Regions from separate parts of the Homo sapiens genome. Here all the other regions are linked to region 4. The links come from fine-mapping of genetic effects on gene expression. A gene starts in region 4. Each other region holds a variant in brackets. All regions are shown on one strand. Distances are between the middles of the regions.

Region 1 (5,585 bases), 250 kb before region 4:
AATGTAATCATCAAGAGAGAGAGCCCCACTTTCTACCAGTTAGTGTGGGAGAATAGAAACCTGACTTAGATTAGCTCCTTGCTCATGGTTTTACAAGAACCTTCTGTCATGAAGATGAGAAAAAAAGTTTACTTTTCCTTTGGGTAAGGTCAGTTAGCAAACACAGATAGCCAGTGATCCTTTTCAGTCCCAGACACACGCACACACACACACACACACACACACACACACACTCCTCTTCTACCATGTCTTTCTGTGGAGTTGAGCTCAGACTGAGCTCTGGTGTTTCTATTCTATTGCAATAGCCTTGAAGAAAGTCTTCCTTACTTGTGTAACTTTGTCCACTGCAATTTTTGCTTTTGACACAGATATTTGAAGAGGCAGGGATTTATAAAAGTGCCTACCAGTGCCAAAAACACCTTTTATCCAAAATTAACAAAACAGAAATTGTTTCCCATTTTGCGGGGTTATTCTTCCTCTATCCTTGATTGAATAAACAATTTTGTCTGTTATTATTAATTTCCTTTCTTTGTAACTGAGGGAGGTAATTTATAAAATAGGTCCATGTTTAGTAGTATAAGAGGGGTATATGAATTTTGCTAATTCAGGGGGCATACCTATAGTTTGATCATGCCTAAAATTTTCTTAGTAATGTCTTTTCATTTTGTAGTATGTAAGTAGTTAAAGGCATGATAGATTTAATTTTTAATTTCATATACTACTCTTATGTGTCTTTGATTATTTTCAGCAAGACATGATATTCTCTATATTTTTAAAAACTGAGATACAGAAATTTTAAACATTAGGAGGCTCAATGAAATTGCATCATTAAAAATATTTATATTTTTAATAAAGAGCAAAAGAATGCTGCATTTGTTATTTTGTTTGCAAATATAGTAGAAAAGTACAACATACTAATTTATTTCAGAGAAAATATCTTACAATAGGATTTCAAGTTTGATGACTGAGTATTTAACTCCTCTCTACTGATATATGTATAGAAAAAACATAAATTTAAGAGTATAGCATAAGGTGTTAAATAAGATGTAACCTGAATATTGTGGGAACCATATGTGAAAAACATTTGACAAAAACTGGAAGAAGAGAAGACATAGGAAGAGTGGACATAACAAATAGACAAATTTGTTCAGTGTGAACACAGATGGTCAAATTAAAAGAAATGAGTTTAAGTTATAGGGAAACAGATGGCAGCTCAATCAAGGAAGAAGAAAGGAAGACGAAGAAATTTTTAACAGAATTGTCCAAAAATGGAAAAGGCAGTCTCGAATGTTAGCAAATTTTCATACATTTGCTAATGAATTTGACAGAGGTAAAGGTGTTCAAGCAAAGTCTGTATCGCTGCTTATGGAGAAGATTCAAACATTCTGGGTAAGAGAGTGTTAAACTTACGTTAGCCTTCTAACAACCTCTCAGGCAGTGTTACCCATGCTCATTTGTGCAATTGCCCTGAAACCTTTTCTCCCTGTCTTGGAGACAGTGATGAAAGATCTTTGGGCCTTGCGTTTCATCTGAGAAAGAAGAAATAGACTTGGGCAATTTAAATGGCAACAGATTTACCATCTCCCTTCTGTGCTCTCAACTGCATAATTTCATGTCTCTTGTGATATTTTCCATTCCTTTTCTAATTAAGGAGTGCCCTGAAAATGAATTAGTGCAGTACCCATAGTTTGGCAATTAATCTAAAGAATAATTTAGATTATTCTTTTTAAATAGAATAAGTAGATATCAATTCCCATATGAGCTGCAAGTGGCATGTGCTACCTTTAGAAATGACTATTGGTCATACATAAGCCCAGTATATTTGATTGTCAGGTTCACCCAAACCTGATCCTTAGACATGACCCACGTATCCTGTTGTGTTCCTCACTCATCACTCTCTATTGCAGTTCTCTTCCTTTCCTTTCCTTTCCTTTCTGTTCTTCTCTTTTCACCCTTTTACAAGTTCATACTTTATACCAAGAAAAATATATAAGAAACATATTTCTTCCTACATAATATTCCATTTCTGGCTCATTTTCTCCTTCTCTATTTATGCTTCTTCACAATTCCTTATAGCTTTTCCTATACTGGATCTTATTTCCTTTCTTTCTACTTTCTATTCTTGAACACTTACTACAACCTTTTAGATACTTAAGGCTAGAAAGTGAAATAAAACATGGCTTCATCTCCCAGGAAGATCACAGTGCCTTTTTATTTTCTCTGTCTCCCTTCTGTGAAGAAATAGTTCAAAAAGTTTAGGATGTGAAGAAGCAAGCCTACGAGTAGCAAGGTCTGGGCTGACATTCTAGTACAACAAGCAGTGATTAGCCCCATGCCTGCCCTATAAAATAATTACTGTTTTTCATGAGAATCATCATTGTGTCTTTCCTCAGAGAAGTAAGTTCCATGTTGAAAGTACAAGATAATACATTCTGTGCTTAATTAAAAAATTATTTTAG[G/T]GTATAGCAGATATGTTAACTTACTGCCTGCCCTGTTCTTAACTTTTAGATCTTTTTAAGATGACATTTATTTATTAAAATCACTAAGCTTCTTTTTCACTAACATGGTGGATAGCAGCTTTTAGCATGCATCAGCCACTTATAAACAGAAAAATGTGCAGAAAAATTAACTCTGAGAGTTTTACTTCAAGAAAGAAGACTGGAATTATTCACCAGAATAGCAAAGGACAACCAGACCTAGAGAGGAGAAGGTGGGCAAACAGTCCCTATGACAACATTTGGGTAACAGAAGTAAGTGAAACACCAGTATGTGAGAGGGGCAGTCAGTCTCTCTCTGTGAATCACCTATCCACTAAGAATCTGTGCAACCCAAGCAAAGGGAGAGCACCCTATTTCTCTCAAGCCCTGGAGCTAACTTGGGGAGAGGTGAAAAGATGGAAAGACCCTGGGGAAAGCTGCAGGCATTTTCCTAGACTCAGGAACAAGAGGAGGATTCCCTTTTTAATCTGGCCTCATACAACATCAGTCATTGTTTGGCGATCTGACAGTGGCAGCTAAGCAGGCATTTTAATTTCAAGCCAGAGACTACAGAAAGCACGTGTAGGCACAGGCCTCATGAACTCTATTAAACAATTCCACAATCAAAGCTACAAAGTAAGTAGCTAGCAAACCTGCAACAGGGACAAAGCCTCACATATCAATATTATCGTTGAATGTAAATGGCCTAAATGCTCCACTTAAAAGACAGAACGACAAATTAGATGCAAATATAGGACCTTTCCTTCTGTTGTTTTTGTGACCCATCTCACATGTAATGACACTCATAGGCTCAAAGTAAAGGGATGGAGAAAGACTGTCACTCAAATGGAAAGCCAAAAAGAGCAAGGGCTGCTATTCTTGTATCAGATAAAACAGACTTTAAACCAACAAAAGTGAAAAAGAACAAAGAAGGACATTACATAATAATAAATGATTCAATTCAACAAGGTTGAAATATCCTAAATTTACACACACCCAAAATTAAAGCACTTGGATTTTAAAAAATAATAGTAATTGCTTGTAGACCTGAGAAAAGACTTAGATATCCACACAATAGTAGTGGTGGATTTCAACATCCCACTGACAGCATTAGAGAGATCATCAAGGCAGAAAACTAACAGAAATTCTGGACTTAAATTTGACATTTGATTGGACCTAATAGACATGTAGAGAATACTCCACCCAACAACCACAAAATATACATTATTCTTATCTGCACGTGGAATGTACTCCAAGATTGGCCACATGATTGGTCATAAAGCCTTGATAAATTCAAAAAAATCAAAATCATACGAAGCATCTTCTTGGATCACAGTGAAATAAAAATAGAAATCAATACTAAAAGGAATTCTCAAAACCACAAAAATACATGGAAACTAAGCAACTTGCCCTTGAGTGGCTTTTGGGTAAGGAATGAAATTAAGGCAAAAAAAAAAAAATTTGAAACAAAAGAAAGCGGAGACATAACACACCAAAACCTCTAGGATACGGAAAAAGCAGTGTTACGTGGAAAGTTTATAGCACAAAACACTTATATCAACAAGATAGAAAAATCTCAAATTAACAACCTAACCTGAAGTTAATAGAACGAAAATAGAAAAGAAAGTGGAAAAAACAAAAACAACCCAATCTGAAAGCAAGAAGAAGAAAAAAATAACTAAAATCAGAGCAAAATAAAATGAATTTGAGATTAAAAAACATACCAAAACATACATAAATGAAATGAGAAGGTGGCTCTTTGAAATGATAAACAAAATTGACAGACCACTAAATAGATTGACAAAGAGAAAAAAAGAAGATCCAAATAAGCATAACCATAAATGATAAAGATGACATCACATCCCATCACACAGAAATACAAAAGATCCTCAGAGACTACTATGAACATATCCATGCACACAAACTAGAAGCTCTAGGGGAAACGGACAACTCCTAGAAACACACAACCTCCCAAGATTGAACCAGGAAGATATAGAAAGCCTGAACAGACTAATAACAAGTAATGAAATGGAATTAGTAATTAAAAAAACCTACCAACCAGAAAAGCCATTGACCAGATGATCATAGCCAAATTTTATTAGACATTAAAAAAAATAGAAAATCCAGCAGTGCAAAAAAATATAATTCATCAAAATCAAATGGGCTTTATTCCAGGGATGCAAAGATTGTTCAACATATGCAAATCAATAAATGTGACTCACCACATAAATATAATTAAAAACAAAACTCATATGATTATCTCAATACATGAGGAAAAAGCATTCAGTAAAACTCAAAATTCCTTCGTGATAAAAATCCTCAACAAACTGGGCATCAAAGGAACATAACCCAAAGTAATAAGAGCCATTTATGACAAAGCTATGGAAAACATTATACAGAACAAGCAAAAGTTGGGAACATTCCTTTTAAGAACTGGAACAATACAAGAATGTCCACTCTCACCACTCACATACAATGTAGTGCTGGAAGTCCTAGCCAGAGCAATCAGGCAAGAGAAAGAAACAAAAGGCATGCAAAGAGGAAAAGAAGAAGTCAAATGATCTCTCTTCTCTGATATTATTATATGCCTAGAAAATCCTGAAGATTCTGCCAGAAGCCTCCTAGACCTGGATAAATGACTTCAGCAATGTCTCAGTATGCAAAATCAACATACACAAAGAAATAGCATTTCTATACACCAATAACATTAACACTGAAAGCAAATCAAGAACACAACCTCATTAACAAGAGCCACAAAAGAAACTAAATAAATAAAATACCTAGGAATATGTCTAATCAAGGAGGTGAAAGATCTCTACAAAAAGAACTACAAAACACTGATGAAAGAAATTATAGACAATAAAAAAAAATGGAAAAACATTCCATACTCATGGATTGGAAGAATCAATATTGTTAAAATGGCTACACTGCCCAAAGCAATTTACAGATTCATCACTATTCCCATCAAATTATTTATGTTATTTTTCACAGAATTAGAAAAAAAAATTCTAAAATTCTCATGGAACCAAAAAAGAGCCCAAATAGTCAAAGCAACCCTAAGCAAAAAGAACAAAGCTAGAGGCATAGCTAACTTCAAGCTGTACTACA
Region 2 (5,585 bases), 330 kb before region 4:
CCCTTCACTTCACCCTTATTCTCTCTTGCCACACCATGTAAGACATGCCTTTTACCTTCCACCATGATTGTGAGGAGTCCCAAGCCACATGGAACTGAGTCCATTAAACCTCTTTTTCTTTATAAATCACCCAGTCTTGCATAGGTCTTTATCAGCAGCATGAAAATGGACTAATACAGTAAACTGATACTGGTAGAGTGAGGTGCTGCTGTAAAGATACCTGAAAATGTGAGAGCAACTTTGTAACGGGGTAACAGGCAGAGGTTGAAAGAGTTCAGAGGGCTCAGAATAAGATAAGAAAATGTGGGAAAGTTTGGAACTGGCTAGAGACTTGTTGAATCACTTTGAACAAAATGCTGATAATGATATAGACAACGAAATCCAAGCTGAAGTGGTCTCAGATGGAGATGAGGAACTTTTTGGGGACTGGAGTAAAAGTGACTCTTGCTATGTTTCAGCAAAGACACTGGTGACATTTTGCCCTGCCCTAGAGATCTGTGGAAATTTGAAGTTAAGGGAGGGAGATGTTTTAGGGTATCTGGTGAACGAAATTTCTAAGCATCAAAGCATTTCAGAGGTAACTCAGGTGCTGTTAAAGGCATACTGTTTTAAAAGGAAAACAGAACATAAAAGTTCAGAAAATTTGCAACCTGATGATGCAGTAGAAAAGAAAAATCGATTTTCTTAGAAGGAATTCTGGCCAGCTGCAGAAATGTGCCTAAGTAACAGGGAACCAAATGTTCATCACCAAGACACTGAGGAAAATGTCTCCAGGGCATGTCAGAGATTTTCACAACAGCCCCTCTCATCACAGGTCCAGAGGCATAGAAGGAAAAAATTATTTCCTGGGCCAAGCCCAGGGTCCCCCTGCTGTGTACAGCATAGGGGCTTGGTGCCCTGTGTCCCAGCCACTCTGGCTAAAAGGGGCCAGCTTATAACTGGAGCCATGGTTTCAGAGGGTACAAGCTCCAAACCTTGCCAGCTTCCACATGGTGTTGAGCCTGCAAGTACACAGAAGTCAAGAATTGAGGTTTGAAAACCTCCTCCTAGATTTCAAAGGATGTATGGAAATGCCTGGATGTCCAGGCAGAAGTATGCTGCAGGGAAGGGGCCCTCATGGAGAATTTCAGCTAAGGCAGTGCAGCAGGGAAATGTGGAGTGGGCACCCCCACAGAGTCCCCACTGGGGCATTGCCCAGTGGAGTTGTGAGAAGAAGGCCACTATCCTCCAGACCCCAGAATGGTAGATCCACCAATAGCCTGCACCATGCACCTGAGAAAGCCATGGACACTCAACACCAGCTTGTGAAAGCAGACAGGAGGAAGACTGTACCCTGCAAAACCACAGGGGTGGGGCTGCCCAAGATCACAGAAACCCACCTCTTGCATCAGCATGAACTGGATTCAAGACCAGGAGTCAAAGCAGATCATTTAGGAGCTTTAAGATTTGACGGCCCAGCTGGATTTTAGACTTGCATGGGCCCTGTAGCCCCTTTGTTTTGGTCAATTTCTCCTATTTGGAACAACCGTATTTACCCAATGCCTGTACCCCATTGTATCTAGGAGGTAACTAACTTGCTTGTGATTTTATAGGCTCATAAGCAGAAGGGACTTGCCTTGTCTCAGATGAGACTCTGGACTGTGGACTTTTGGGTTAATGCTGAAATGAGTTAAGACTGTGGGGGACTGTTGGGAAGGCATGATTGGTTTTGAAATGTGAAATGAGATTTGGGAGCAGCTGAGGTGGAATGATATGGTTTGGCTCTGTCTCCACCCAAATTTCATCTTAATTTTAGCTCCCATAATTCCCATGTGCTGTGGGAGGGACCTGGTGGCACATAATTGAATTATGGCAGTGGTTTTCTCCATACTGTTCTTGTGGTAGTGAATAAGTCTCACAAGATCTGATGGTTTTATAAGGGGAAATCTCTTTCACTTTGCCATCATTCTCTCTTGCTACTGCCATGTAAGACATACCTTTCACCCTCCACCATGACTGTGAGGCCTCCCCAGCCACATGGAACTGTGAGTCCATTAAACCTCTTTTTCTTTATAAATTACCCAGGGTCAGGTATGTCTTTATCAGCAGCATGAAAATGGACTAATATAGTTGAGTAGTTATGACAGAAATCATATGACCTACAAAGCCTAAAATATTTACTACCTGACTCTTTAGAAAAAGTTTGCTGACTGTTTGATTCGTATATATCTATTTTGAAAAGATCACTGTATTAGAAATATAAAGAAATATCAATTGCTAGTGGAGAAGCAAGAGGTCACACATACAGACCAATTAGGAGACTGTGGTAGGTAAGGGATGATAAAGAACTGGATTAGGTTGGTAACAATAGATATGGAATTATGTGAAAAATAAGGTGACATCAACTGAACCTGGTGATGAAGTGCAAATGGAGAATAAGTGAAAATAAGGAGTTGAGGATGTTTTCTAGGTTTTTCTTTGGAAAAATGTAATAGATGGAGGTGATAAGATTAGTTTGGAGATGTCGGGTTTGAAGGGTCTGTGAAATATGCAAATAGAGATATTGAGACAGCAGTGGAATACATGGCCCTGCATTTCCAGGGATAGACAGATCTAGGCTGGGAGTCAAACATCAATGAAAATTAAATATATAAGAATAGCTGAAAATCCAGGAAAAGTGTGTAGAGGGAGAAATAGGCAAAAGACCAGAATAACTTCACACTCAATAAGATTTTATTAATCTCCATGTGTTTGCATGAAATGCATATTTTGATGGGGTCAAGTTCTCGATTAAATGCTACTTTAGAAATCTGAAAATCCAACTTTTCACATACCTTACACTTCACTTGTTCATTCTTATCCCACTATGTTACGGCATGACTGTTCACTGAAATAAACTCAAACTGCATTAAAATAGTTTATAATTAAGATCATCTTCATTTCAGTTACTCTAAATTAGTGTGAGTCAGTGTTTTACTCCTATAATTTATCTCACTAATTTTGAGAGTTTTACCCTGCAATATGATAGCTATTGTTTCTTTAATGCTCACTCTCTATTCAGGCCCCTATCAAAGCAGTATGCAATCTGGTCTCTGTATCCATGGACTTTGCATCTGTGAATTCAACAAAACATTGATTGAAAATATTTAGGGAGAAAAAAATGGATAGTTGCTTTGTACTGAACATGTACAGGATTTTTTTTATTATTTCCTAAACAATTCAGTACAACAATTATTTACACAGCATTTACATTGTATTAGGTATTGTAAATAATCTAGAGATGATTCATGGTGTATAGAAAGATGTGCATAGGTTATATGAAAGTACTACACCAATGTATATATAAGGGCCTGAATATCTGTGAGTTTTGATATCCATGGGAAGTCCTAGAACCAATCCCCTGTGGATATTGATGGATGGCTGTATATATGGCTGTCATTTTATCCTAAATGACAGCCATATG[G/A]GGAGACTGAGGCTTGGAGAACTTGTTGAGGTAAAACATTTTGTAAGTGGTAGATCTCTAGTACCCTACCTCCAGAATCTTTACTCTTAACCTATCAGATACACAACCTCACTTCATTCACTTCCTCTAAGTCCTGTGCCTTCAATGTATTTACACCTTTAAGTGTGTCTTACAGAATTATTATAATGAAATATATATTCATTGTTGTGTGACAGAAATCATACAAGGCTAAGAGTGAAAAATCCAAATTTCAGAATAGTTTGTGATACATGCTTTGAACAATGATTTAATATTCCTGAACTTGCTTTCTAATATGTTAGAATATGTTAAAAATATGACTGACCTATCTTAATTAGAGGGTGTTTGAGATTAGGCATATGAAAAACAGTATATATGTGGAGGCACTCTGAAAATATGTATCATTGTTAAAATATTTATGCAAAATTGGTATTTTTTATGGACCTATCTCTGACGCAGGAGAATCAAGGCCTGGGAAAGAAAGATTAATCCATTTATGCCTGAGGTGGCAATTTTTTGAATTTTTGCAATCAGACCTTGGTGATGACCTTGAGCAGTAGGATATAAATAACTTCCACATTCTTTGCGTTCCAATAATGGAACACTAGGCATATTAAGCAGCTGGCACGCAATTTATTTCTCTCTTCTTTCCAGAAGAAAACTTTGAAGAAAGAAAGAAAACAAGTGGCACAATCCAATCTTTTAAACATGCTGAAAACAGACCTTGTGTAATAAACTAATATTTTCTAGCATGATAGTTCTTATTGATATAATACTCTTAGCAAATGACCCTGGTCTAGGAGTGCTTATGATAATCAAACCAGGAATACGTGAATTTGTGGTACATGGTTCTCTGCAAAATGTCATGGAAGCCATGTAAATATATTAATGTATAAAATGGAGATATTTCATAATCTAGATCAGCAGTGGACAAGCATTTTCTGTAAAGAAGCAGGTGGTATTTTCAGTTTTGTAGGTCATCCAGTCTCTGTCACAAATATCAGTTCTGCCACTGTAGTGCCAAATATGTCATACATTATAAGGAAACAAACCAATGTGGCTGTGTTTGAATAAAACTTTATTTACAAAAAGAGGCAGTGGGCTGGATTTGGCTAAAATCCAAAAATTTGAGTTTTCTTGGATAAAGAAAATGTGGTACACATACACCATGAAATACTATGCAGCCATAAAAAGAATGAGTTCATGTCCTCTACAGCAACATGGATAGAGCTGGAGGGCATTATTATAAGTAAATTAACATAGGAACAGAAAATCAAATACCGCAGGTTCTCATTTATAAGTGGGAGTTAAATACTGAGTACACATGAACACAGAGAAGGAATAATAGACTCTGGGGTTTACTTGAGAGTGGAAGGTGAGAGGAAGGTAAGGATTACAAAGCTACCTATTGAGTACTATGCTTATTACCTGGGTGATGAAATAATCTGTACACTAAATCCCCAGGACATGCAATTTACCCATATAACAAACATGCACATGTATCCTCTTGAATGTAAAACAAAATTTGGAATAAAAAAATTTAAAAAGTTTAAATTTTTGTTTAAATTAAAGAAAACACAACAGGCCTACTGATACTAATAGTCACGTTCATGACAAGTATTGTATAGTGTATAAAGCCATTGATCAAATGAGTTTCATTTAAAGAGATTTATAATTTAATAATCTAATGGCAAATAAATGAAATCTTCTATTTTAGTAGAATACAGGATCTTTTACTAAATTATATTTTTAAGAGCTACAGCACCCTCTTGATAATGTCCTTTCAAGAACTGGTAGCAAATTAGAGAACATTTCACTATATCACATAATTCTAAATGAATGATCATATATAAATATGAGATTTCTGATTGAAGCAGATTCATTTAAAATATGTAGGTCCTATAAGATGCACTTGAGATTTAGTCATAAATCATAGATGATATCTATATCATGGAAACAAAATAATGCTAGCATGCATCTGAAATATTCTTTTAACAGACACTATTAACCTGTTATAATTTGTGGGAGAAATCATTCTCCTTCTCCAGTCTTCATCAGCAGGGAGGGAAGAATGAATCTAAAGTGCTATGGTCTGAGCATCCAGCATGATCATCTTTAGTTACTT
Region 3 (5,585 bases), 89 kb before region 4:
TTCTAGGCTGGGAAAACATTCATGCATTGAAAGTAATTTTTTTCAAATAATCTACAAAACAGTCCTACTTTTCAATGTTTTGAATGAATTGAATTCAATCAATTCATAAGACAGAACACCGTCATTTGAAACATTATATTATGTTTCTACAAAACAAAAAGGAATAGAATTTTTAAAAACTCATCAGTTTCATGGAATTTTACTGGAAAGGTAATTAATCCATTTTCTTAGTTAATATGCTGGATCTGTACAAAGCATTATACAGAGTAAGTATTATTAAAGTGTTTGTTTCTTTTATTTCATTTTATTTTTGAGACCGAGTCTTGCTCTGTCGCCCAGGCCAGAGTGCAGTGGTGCAATCTCTGCTCACTGCAACCTCGGCCTCCTGGGTTCAAGCAATTCTCCTGCCTCAGGCTCCCAAGTAGCTAGGATTACAGGGGCACACCACCCTGCCCAGCTAATTTTTGTATTCTTTTAGTAGAGACAGGGTTTCACCATGTTGGCCAGGCTGGTCTCTAACTCCTGACCTAGTGATCCGCCCTCCTTGGCCTCCCAAAGTGCTGGGATTACAGGTGTGAGCTACCGCACCTGGCCATTTGTTTCATTATTGAACATGCAATTTAATTGAAGCATAATAGATCCCTTTAAATATGTATTATTTTTCCTCTATTATGTTGATTGACTGCTCTAGGAGTAAGAAAAAATTTACCACATTCTAAGATGTCAGCAAGTGAAATTCCAACCTCGCAATTCTTAACAAGGAATTTTCATATTTGTGGGTGTAGCAGCCTGATTCAGAGACAAAGCCCACCTTCTGTATATGAGATGTTGGATGGACAGCCAATTGTAATGATTTAAGGACAATGAACAATTGGGACCAGTTATCTTCTTCTTGAGACTCTTTACTTCTGTGAGTTCCAGCTGATGGACTCCAGCCCAGGTCTATATTGCATTTGGCTGTGGTGGTATTTGGATTCGAATTTGAATGTCTCCATACTAGGCAAGCCCTCTCTACTTTGGCACAATACCTACCACTTTTTATTTTTTGTATATCCTGATCCAAACAATGATACTACCTACTGAATTATAAAAGCAGTCAATTTTGTACAGAAGATGCTTCCGATTTCAGAGCCCTCTGTTAAAAGTTTAAAGATAATTATATTTAGTTTGTCAAGTGTGCAGAAAATGTACAAGCTATCCTTGTACATTTTAGCTAATAAAAAGTCTTCTTGTAAAGGAATAGAATTTGGTTATAATAGCTGTCAAATTTTTAAAATTTGTACTTTGAAGCTGTAATTCTAATTCCAGAAACTTTTTTCTAAAAAATTACTCATACAGATCCAAAAACTTTTGTGTGCAAGAATATGTTTGGCTGCATCACCCAAAATAAAAAAACCTTGTAAACAATCTAGATGTGCATTTATACAACAGTGGTTATAGAAATCATGATATAGTCAGTATATATGTAACAATATCTCACACATCACATATATACTATATATGAATTCATGTATCATACGTATTAACATTTATGAATTTATATATTCACATATCATATGTATATGAATGACATGTGTACATAAAATAGATGAATAATGACTATACATACTGGCAGGGAAAGTGTTCAAGTCATACTGTTAAGTAAAAAAGCAAGTTGCAAATTGCTGCATATAGTATGAAACCATTTTAGAGAAAATAAAGTGTGTGTGCACATGTATGAAATTTATGTCTTAATGCATAACAATGCAATAATAAGTATTTTTAGGAAATTGAGATAACGATTTTCCACTCACAATTATAAAATAATGTATATAATTATGCATTTTATTATATATTTTTAACATGTATAATTCTAAGCTGCTTGAATTATAATGAGAAAAATTTGTTAGATCACTTATAATACAGTCAAAGAAGGGGAAAAGTTCTCCATTAAAATAAAAACAATCCTTGAGAAAATACAATATAATTCATTAATAAGCAAGTATTTTAACATGCTTCTTAGGCCCTACTCTTTGTGCCCTTGGCCTAAAACACTCTCCATAAATTATTATGAATGCCTGTTTCCCCAAATAGTTATTATCTGCTAATTCTTCAGCTCTCTCTCAGATACTATATTCTTATGAAAGTCTTCCCTAACCAACCCAGTCATATGTTCTCACAGAAATCATATTGTTCCATAGCACATGTGATGGTTAATACTGAGTGTCAAATTGATGAGACTGAAGGATGCAAACTATTAATCCTGGGTGTGTCTGTGAGGGTGCTGCCAAAGGAG[A/T]TTAACATTTGAGTCAGTGGGCTGGGGAAGGCAGACCTACACTTAATCTGGATGGGCACCATCTAATCAACTGCCAGCGATTATAAAGCAGGCAGAAAATGTGAAAGCCTCCCAGCCTACATCTTTTTCCCATGCTGGATGCTTCCTACCCTTGAACATCAGACTCCAAGTTCTTCAGTTTTGGAACTTGGACTGGCTCTCCTTGCTCCTCAGCCTGCAGCAGGCCTATTGTGGGAACTTGTGATCGTGTGAGTTAATACTTAATAAACTCATTAAATACCTAAGAAACTCTTTTATTCCATTAATTCTGTCCTTCTGGAGAACTCTGACTAATACAGTACACATGATGGTTTATAATTATATACTTATATATTCATTTAGGAAATTATTTATTTTATATACAATTCCTAGACTAAGCTATGAGCTCCATGAGGTCAGATATCCTATCTGTTTTTCTCACTGTTAAATTACAGACACCTGAAACAGTGTCAGGTCATGATAGATACTCAAAATATATTTATTGAATGAAGAAATCATGAGTGAGTTTATTATTTAGTTGCATTTTTGAAAGTTCAGGATAAGTCTGTTTTTTTTTAAAAGTCACATACAATGGATAAGGGAAAAATAGGCCTTGAAAAAAAGGATGGAGAGGAAGCCTAACAATTTCAACTAGTTTACAATCTCACAGGCCTTGACAAGTTAACTCTTACAGCTAATTAAAATTACACCTGTGTATAGAGAGTAGGCATTCATTCATTTATTCATTCATTCAGTTTGTTCATTAATATTAATCTGCTAAGCTTTCATTCCCTTTATAAAGAGAAAGTCTTAGATTCAATGTGATGTTTCCTCTTTAATTCATAATCAGCTACCTAAGAATATTTTAAAAGGCCTCTTTTTTCAACTTTTAAAACCAAGCATTTCAGTTCTTATGAGCTTCATTCAAATTCTTGCCTTATTTTTTTCCCGCTAATAGCTCTACTCAATCCAAAGGTATTTTACTCAGTATATCTCAGATTTTATTTTCCCAGTTTCCTTCTTTTCATGCTGTTTATTTGAAGATTTTTTTAAAATTTTCAAACTGACTTTTTATTGCTATTTTTCTGGCCTCAGTTCTCTATTTGATGTTTTTAAAGAGTTGTGTCACTAGATAGTAGTTAAATACTTACCAATTTTTCTACTTAATCTCAGAAAACCTGCTGCCATTTTATAATAAATACAATACCATGCCACTCATGGAAGGTCAATGCATGAGTGTCGGGTAATGTCACTTGACTTCTTTGAGACAGGATCCCCCACTTACTCACACCACCCTCCCATTAAAAACTAACCGTACATCTGGAATGTTGGCCAGCTTTCCTTAATAGAGAGGATGTGGCCTAAGGGCCTTTATTCACAAAATTAGTTTGTGCCTGATGCTCTGAATTATGCTGTTTTAATAATTTGCTAGAAACATGATCAATAAGAAGTATTCATTTTCTGTTACCCTGTAGGTAAATTCTTTGCCAGTATTAATATTTTCTTTGACAGATTGCTGAACTCATAATGATGGTATTGCATACTTGCAAAGCTGTTTATGATCTGCAAAATAATTTCACATTTCACTGTGTCATAGCTTTTCACCTCTGATTCTAGTTAGATAATTCAATTATGTAAAATAGTCACTTGATGAGGGACTCCTGTTAAGCATTATACCAACACTTCAGACACTGTCAAAAGAAATATATGTAGTCTCTTCATTTGCAAATCATTGAAAGCTTGAAAGTGGTGTATTAGAAACAAAGACTGTTATAAAATTGTAGGATACCACAACTTCATGCAATTTAAAAAAACAGTGAGTTCCAACCATGATCAAAAAGGATGGATTTATATTTGTCTGGAAATTAAGAAAAATGGCTAAAGAAATGTCAATCTGACTGCCTTGCTTGTTGGCTGTAGCCCTTGCTATCTTGAATTATATTTGCGATTACTAAATATAATTCTTGCCTAATATCCTACTTCCACTTGAATATACTCTCTTGCTTGGACAATGATGTCAATTCTTAATATCTCTTTAATATTTCAATCCCAGCTTTCTCATTTGTCTCTTAATGCCCAGTGATGCATGATATGGCACAAGGTTGCAATACTGGTAATATTTTTTTCAGAAAATCATCCTTCCTTTATCATCTGTTGACACTTTTGTTGAGCCATTTAAATGTGCCCAGCATTCTGCTTGACTGCTAAGGTTATACAGTTGACACCCTTAAGGAGTTTACAGTAATTCAGTTTGCAATCTATACATAATTAATTAGACATTTTTCATCAATTAAAAACATACAAGAATTTTAAAAATATATAATATTCTTGCAGTCTTCATTGCATGAAAGAAACAAGTACTATCCCTTAAATTAGATATGCGTAACCTATGAAGATACCAGATTAGCCAGTTTACTAGGTGTGCAATAAATAAAATCCCAAAGTATCTATTCTTGATTGTGGAAAAAAGATCTGAAGATATAGAAAAGTAAAGTTTCTATGACAGAACACATCATAGACCAGCATTGGAAACACACTAAAAATAATATTAATCAATTGTCAGTCATAAGCTTGTCAGAAGCCTGACATAATTGTTCTTCCTCAGAGAGAAAAATGTGCAGAGACTTAGAGAAAAAAAATTCATTAGAATAATCTGTTCACCTTGATTGAAAGTTGATAAATGTATTTGGTAATTTCAAACAGATTGTGAATTTTAAAAATCTATGCTAGAACTCATTTTTATAAATTTGTAAAATTAGGAAGGAATTGAGGAGAAAACTCTTATCAAAAAATTGCAAATTGTGGCTTTATCCAGCCTGTCAATGTTAGACTGGATAAATTAAATGTAGTACATATACACTATGGAATACTATGCAGCCATAAAAAGGAACAAGATCATGCCCTTTGCAGGGACATGGATGGAGCTGGAACCCATTTTCCTCAGCAAACTAACTCAGGAACAGAAAACCAAATACCACATCTTCTCACTTATAAGTGGGAGATGAATAATGAGAACACATGGATACATTGAGGGGAGCAACACGCACTGGGGCCTGTGGAAGGGTGGAGCATTAAGAAGAATAGCTAATGGATGCTGGGCTTTATACCTAGGTGATGAGATGATCTGTGCAGCTAATCACAATGGCACATGTTTACCTATGTAACAAACCTGCACATCCTGCACATGTGCCCCTGAAATTAAAAGTTGGAAATCAAAAAAGGCCAATTTTTAAGATTCTAGGACAAAAAGAGGTTACTTATGTATTTAGATATTACAGATGCAATATTCTTC
Region 4 (5,585 bases):
GTTTTATTTGTAATAGAGAAAACTTAGGAAAATCGTAAGTATCTCATAACATATGAATAAGTGAATTACAGCATATACAAATGATAGAATTTCATGTAGTTATCAAAATATGTTTAGAAAGCTGGCAAAACTAATCTTTGATGTCAGAAGTCAGAAGAATGGTTACTTAATGGTTGCTAGAATACAACAGGAGCAAGAGAGGGGCTTTTGGGGGTAATGGTCTTGATCTGATTGCCACTTACATAGATATATTCTGTTTGTGGAAATTCATCAAATTATACAGTTATGTTTTATGCAGTTTCTGTAAATATATGTATAAGTAAAAAGTTAAAAATGTGTTATGCATAGTTTCCCAAAAAAAGAGAAACAAACTCAAAAAGTAGTAAGTAAAAGACTCAAGACACGTAATTGTAAGTGCAACAGGTTCAACTATGTAAAAAGTACATAGAACAAAGTCTAAATGGAAACATAACAAAAAAGGCTGGGCATGGTGGTTCACGCCTGGAATCCCAGCACTTCAGGAGGCCGAGGCAGGTGGATCACCTGAGGTCAGGGGTTCAAGACCAGCCTGGCCAACACGGTGAAACCCAGTCTCTACTAAAAATACAAAAATTAGCTGGGCATGGTGGCGCACACCAGTAATCCCAGGTACTCAGGAGGCTGAGGCATGAGAATCACTTCAACCCGGGAAGCAGAGGTTGCAGTGAGCAGAGATCGTGCCACTGCACTCCAACCTGGGCAACAGAGAGAGACCCCGTCTCAAAACAAAACAAAAAAACCTTCCATTTTTTTAATACTAGCACGATTTTTATTCTTTAAATCCATGGGGTCCTTGTCATCCATCTTTTTGCAAGCCATCCACTACATTTACTAGCTTAAAAGGTGGATGAAAAAAATAATGAAGCAACAACTAAACTGTTTCAATAGTAATCCTGTAAAAGGTAATTTGAAAACCACCTGAGACTAAACTGTTGGCAGGAAATATCACACTCATTTCACGTGGGCTTTCCTAAATCTGAACAACTAATAGGAAAGAGCCCCGTTTAAGTGACTTCCTGAAAATCACATGTGAATTGGTGGAGGCTGGAAACAGACACCATTTTTAGATAAAAACACAACTACTGCGGATGGCAATACGACCTCTGAATTTTCTCAGAAGACCATCAAGAGAGGCCTCAAGCATTCAAAGAAGCAACATGCAAAGCAAATATGTTACTGACAACTAAAATGAGTTAAAGAGCAATGATTAATCCCACCCCCACACCTCAAAAACAAATCAGTGAGAAAAAGATTTCTTGAACCAATAAGTTTCAAGCTTTGGCTGCTGACGTATGATTGCACATTAATACTTCAAGAAGGTACTTTGATGTTCAACTAGTTGGGTTTGGAGATGGAAACATAGGGCATGAAAATTATATTTGATATTAGCATAAGTACATCATTAAACACAAAATTATATTGGCAGAAAATCATCAAGTGGTTTAAAACTTTACACACATACGTTATCCAGGGCTTCGAGCTTCCCTAAGACCACCTTCTTTCTAGATAAAACTGAGAACGAGTTAGTAATGTAAGCTTTTATGTCAATTTAGACCTGTCTTTTCTATTCTACCTCTCACTCTTAACACTGTTTACACTCTTAATCCTGTTTACACACAGAAAATCACTTTTATTCCCGAAAACTCTTAGAAAAACCCTGACAATAACATAACCCACAACCTAGAAGGGAGGCAGCCATGAAGCAGGCGCATCCCTTTGGAACCATACAAAAAGTGACCTCTGCCAACGGGAACAGTTCAGGGTGCTTAAGTGGCCAAAGAAGATACCGACATGGCCCCTAAAGTATTAAAAGCACCTTCTTTCCAGAAGTACCTCCGAATTGCCAGGGACTTCGCCCAAAACTAGAGGTTGGTCGAAGTGAAAATCTAAACCTAAGGAGAAGGCAGAGAGTGGGATCCCGTCACAGTAGGAAGGTAAAGAAGACAGAAGTAAAGGACAGAGCGGGAGAGAAAGGACAAAAGTTCAAAATACAGGGGTAGAGGAGGGACAGGAGCCAGAAGAATGGAGCGATCTGAAAGGTGTACGTCCTACTCACTGGTAGGCCTGTTTTGGACTCCGCTGTGGGAGAGGGCGGCTGCACTTCTGCGTCCCCCGCCTCACCTGTCAGACATCCACACAGCCAGGCCTCCCCGCCCTCACCAAGCCCACACAAACCGCGCCACCGCCAGCGTCAGCCGGACGACTCTGGGGGCGTAGGCCGACACCGCCCTCCCTCCAGCCAATCTAATAGCGCTCTCATGGGCGCATTCCTGATGACGTTTAGGGGTAGGGTTAGATGCCCGTTTCCGCTTTCTTCCCACCCACTTCCGGGTCTCCTCTGTTTACGAATGTTTGGGCGCGAATTACTCTAAGCGCGGCTCTCAGAAGGGTGCAAGAAGAATCAGTGGTGAGTCGTGATATCCTTAACCGGCTGGGTGGATCTAAAGTTCAGGGATGAGTTTTAAAGCCAACGCGTTTGTGGCAGACTCCGCAGTTTGCATTTGAGGATAGCGAGGGGGGATTGCTTACGGGGAAATGCCCGATGTCCTAAAAGATCTGCCCTTAGGATCCTGAGATTGAGATGTTTGATTAGGGGGGAGGGAGCAAAGCCATGAATACTTCCTATTTCTCCCGAATCATCCTCATGGCTCATCCTCATTGCTAAATTTCTCCCGCGGGCACTAGTGAAGTCAAGTGCAGCCTTGGACATTAGTGTCTGTGTTTCTCCAGGAGTCCTACTCACTCTTGTGCCCACATAGAGGTCTAAATTGAGGTAATTGAGTCCCATGAGTATCAACAAGCTGGTAAGAAAAACAAGACAACCTAGAATGCCTCCCTCTCTCCTAAAGCATATAGTCTGGCGGCAAACTACTGTACCAGCCTTATTTCTTTTCACTTCTCCTATACACATTAAAAGCCTCGCTGGATTATCCTGTCCCTGAACACGCCAGGTTTTTTGTGTTTTTTCCGAGCTTTCCTGCCGTCCGAGTTTTACTGTTTTCCCTTGGATGCTTCATTTTTCTACTTTTTGGCTAAATATTTCAAAATGTTATTAGAATAATACTTTTTCTATGAATAATGTACAAACATACTTCCGAGATATTGCGGGGTCGGTTCCAGACCAATAAAGCCTGTCACACGATTTTTTTGGTTTCCCAGTGCATATAACAGTTGTATTTACACTGTATTGTAACCTATTAAGTGTGCAATAGCATTATGTGTAAAAAAAAATTACATGCTGTAATTTTAAAATATTTTATTGCTAAAAAATGCTACTAATCATCTCAGCCTTCAGCAAGTCCTAATCTTTTTGCTGGTGGAGGGTCTTGCTTGATGTTGATGGCTGTTGACCAATCAGGGTGATGGTTGCTGAAGATTGGAGTTGCTGTGGCAGTTTCTTAAAATAACAAAATAATGAATTTTGTACAGCAGTTGACTCTTCCATTCACTAAAGATTTCTCTGTAGCATGTGATGCTGTTTGAAAGCATTTTACCCACTGTAGAACTTCTTTCAAAATTAGAGTAAATCCTCTTAACCCCTACCATTGCTTTAGCAACTAAGGTTTTGTGATATTCTGAATTCTTTGTTGATATTTCAAGAATATTCACAGCATCTTCACCAGGGGTAGATTCCATCTCAAGAACTTCGCTCATTCATAAGAAGCAACTTCTTTTCCACTAGTTTTATCATGAGATTGCAGCAATTCAGGTACATCTTCAGGCTCCACTATTTCTCTTGCTATTGCCACCAGATCTTTCATCACTTCCTCCACTGAAGTCTTGAACAAAGTCATGACCTTTACAAAGTCATCCATGAGGGTTGGAATCAACTTTTTCCAGACTCCTGTTAATGTTGATATTTTGACCTCCTCCCGTGAATCATGAATGTTCTTACTAGCATTTGGGATGGTGAATCATTTCCAGAAGTTTTCAATTTATTTTGCCCAGATCCATCAGAGGAATCACTGTCTAGGGCAGCTATAGCTTTACAAAATGTATTTCTTAAATAATATAACTTGAAAGTCAAAATTATTCTTTGATTCATGGGCTGCAGAATGGATGTTGTGTTAGCAGACATGAAAACAGCATTAATCTCCTTGTACATCTCTATCAGAGCTCTTGGGTGACCAAGTACGTGGTCATTGAGCAGTATTATTTTGAAAGGAATCTTTTTGTGAGCTGTAGGTCTCAAAGATGGGCTTAAAATACTCAGTAAACCGTGCTGTAAACAGATGTGCTGTCACTCATGCTTTGTTCTTCCATTTCCAGAGCACAGACAGAGTAGATTTAAAAGAATAAGAGCCCTAGGATATTTCAGAATGGTCAATGAGCATTGGCTTCAAGTCACCACCCATATTAGCCCCTACAAGAGAGTCAGCCTGTCTTTTGAAGCTTTGAAGCCAGGCAATGACTTCTTTCTAGATATGAAAGTCCTAGATAGCATCTTCCAATAGAAGGCTGTTTTGTCTTCATTGAAAATCTGTTGTTTAGTGTAGCCCCTTCATCAATTATCTTACCTAGAACTGGATAACTTGCTGCAGCTTCTGCATCAGCACTTGCTGCTTCACTTTGTACTTTCATGTTATGCAGATAGCTTACTTCCTTAAACCTCAGGAACCAAGCTCTGCTAGCTTCAGGCTCTTTTGCTACAGCTTTCTCACCTCTCTCAGCTTTCATAGAATTGAAGTGAGTTAAGACCTTGCCATGAATTCGTCTTTGGTTTAAGGGCGTGTTGTGGCTAGTTTGATCTTCAATCCCGGACCACTCAAACTTTCTCCCTATCAGTAATAAGGCTGTTTTTGCTTTCTTATCATTCATGTCTTCACTGGAATAGCACTTTAAATTTCCTTCAAGAACTTTTCCTTTGCATTCACAGCTTGGCTAACTGGTGTAGTTTCCAGCCTATCTTGGCTTTTGACATGCCTACCTCACCTTGCTTAAACATTTCTAGCTTTTAATTTAAAGTGAGAGAGGTGTGATTTTTGCTTTCACTTGAACACTTAGAGGCCATTGTAGGGTTATTAAATGGCCTAATTTCAATATCATTGTGTCTCAGGGAATAGGGAGGCCTAAGGAGAGGGAGAGAGGCAGGGAACAGCCAGTTGGTGGAGCAGTCAAAACACAACGCAACATTTACCTATTAAGTTCTCTGTCTGATATTGGCATGGTTCATGGTGCCCTAAAACAATTACAGAGTAACATCAATCACCATAACAGATATAATAATGAAAAGGTTTGAAATATTGTGAGAGTTATCAAAATATGACACAGAAATGTGAAGAGTGAGCACAATCTGTTGGAAAAATGGCATCAATATAGTTGTTCAGTGCAGGCTTGCCACAAACCTTTAGTTTGTAAGACAACAACAACAAAATACAGTGTCTGCGAGGCTCAATAAAGTGAAACACAATAAAAAGAGTTATGCCTGTACATTCTTACCCATAGCACAAACCAGTTTAAGACAGTCATTCGCTCACTTGCCTCTTTATAACATTTATAAATACACATAGTAATTATTTTCATATCTGTCTCTACCTGTGCACTAT

What was found.
Region 1: its variant is fine-mapped to the expression of MMUT in whole blood (INTERVAL, PIP above 0.99). The same link has a PIP of 0.9 or more in breast, skeletal muscle, subcutaneous fat and transverse colon.
Region 2: its variant is fine-mapped to the expression of MMUT in blood mononuclear cells (TOPMed, PIP above 0.99). The same link has a PIP of 0.9 or more in whole blood.
Region 3: its variant is fine-mapped to the expression of MMUT in whole blood (TOPMed, PIP above 0.99). The same link has a PIP of 0.9 or more in lung.

Annotation. Positions count from the first base shown.
Region 1 is chr6:49,209,139-49,214,723 of GRCh38, forward strand. No RefSeq gene overlaps it. Among named protein-coding and RNA genes, the nearest start is that of MMUT, 250 kb to the right of the region's middle. The variant G/T (reference allele first, on the strand shown) is at 2,460.
Region 2 is chr6:49,129,029-49,134,613 of GRCh38, forward strand. No RefSeq gene overlaps it. Among named protein-coding and RNA genes, the nearest start is that of MMUT, 330 kb to the right of the region's middle. The variant G/A (reference allele first, on the strand shown) is at 3,443.
Region 3 is chr6:49,371,707-49,377,291 of GRCh38, forward strand. No RefSeq gene overlaps it. Among named protein-coding and RNA genes, the nearest start is that of MMUT, 89 kb to the right of the region's middle. The variant A/T (reference allele first, on the strand shown) is at 2,276.
Region 4 is chr6:49,461,008-49,466,592 of GRCh38, forward strand. MMUT (methylmalonyl-CoA mutase) reads right to left here and starts at 2,246. Exons shown (of 13, transcript NM_000255.4): 1 at 2,096-2,246. CENPQ (centromere protein Q) reads left to right here and starts at 2,363. Exons shown (of 9, transcript NM_018132.4): 1 at 2,363-2,446. RefSeq lists enhancers at 1,429-2,329, 1,916-1,985, 2,330-3,229.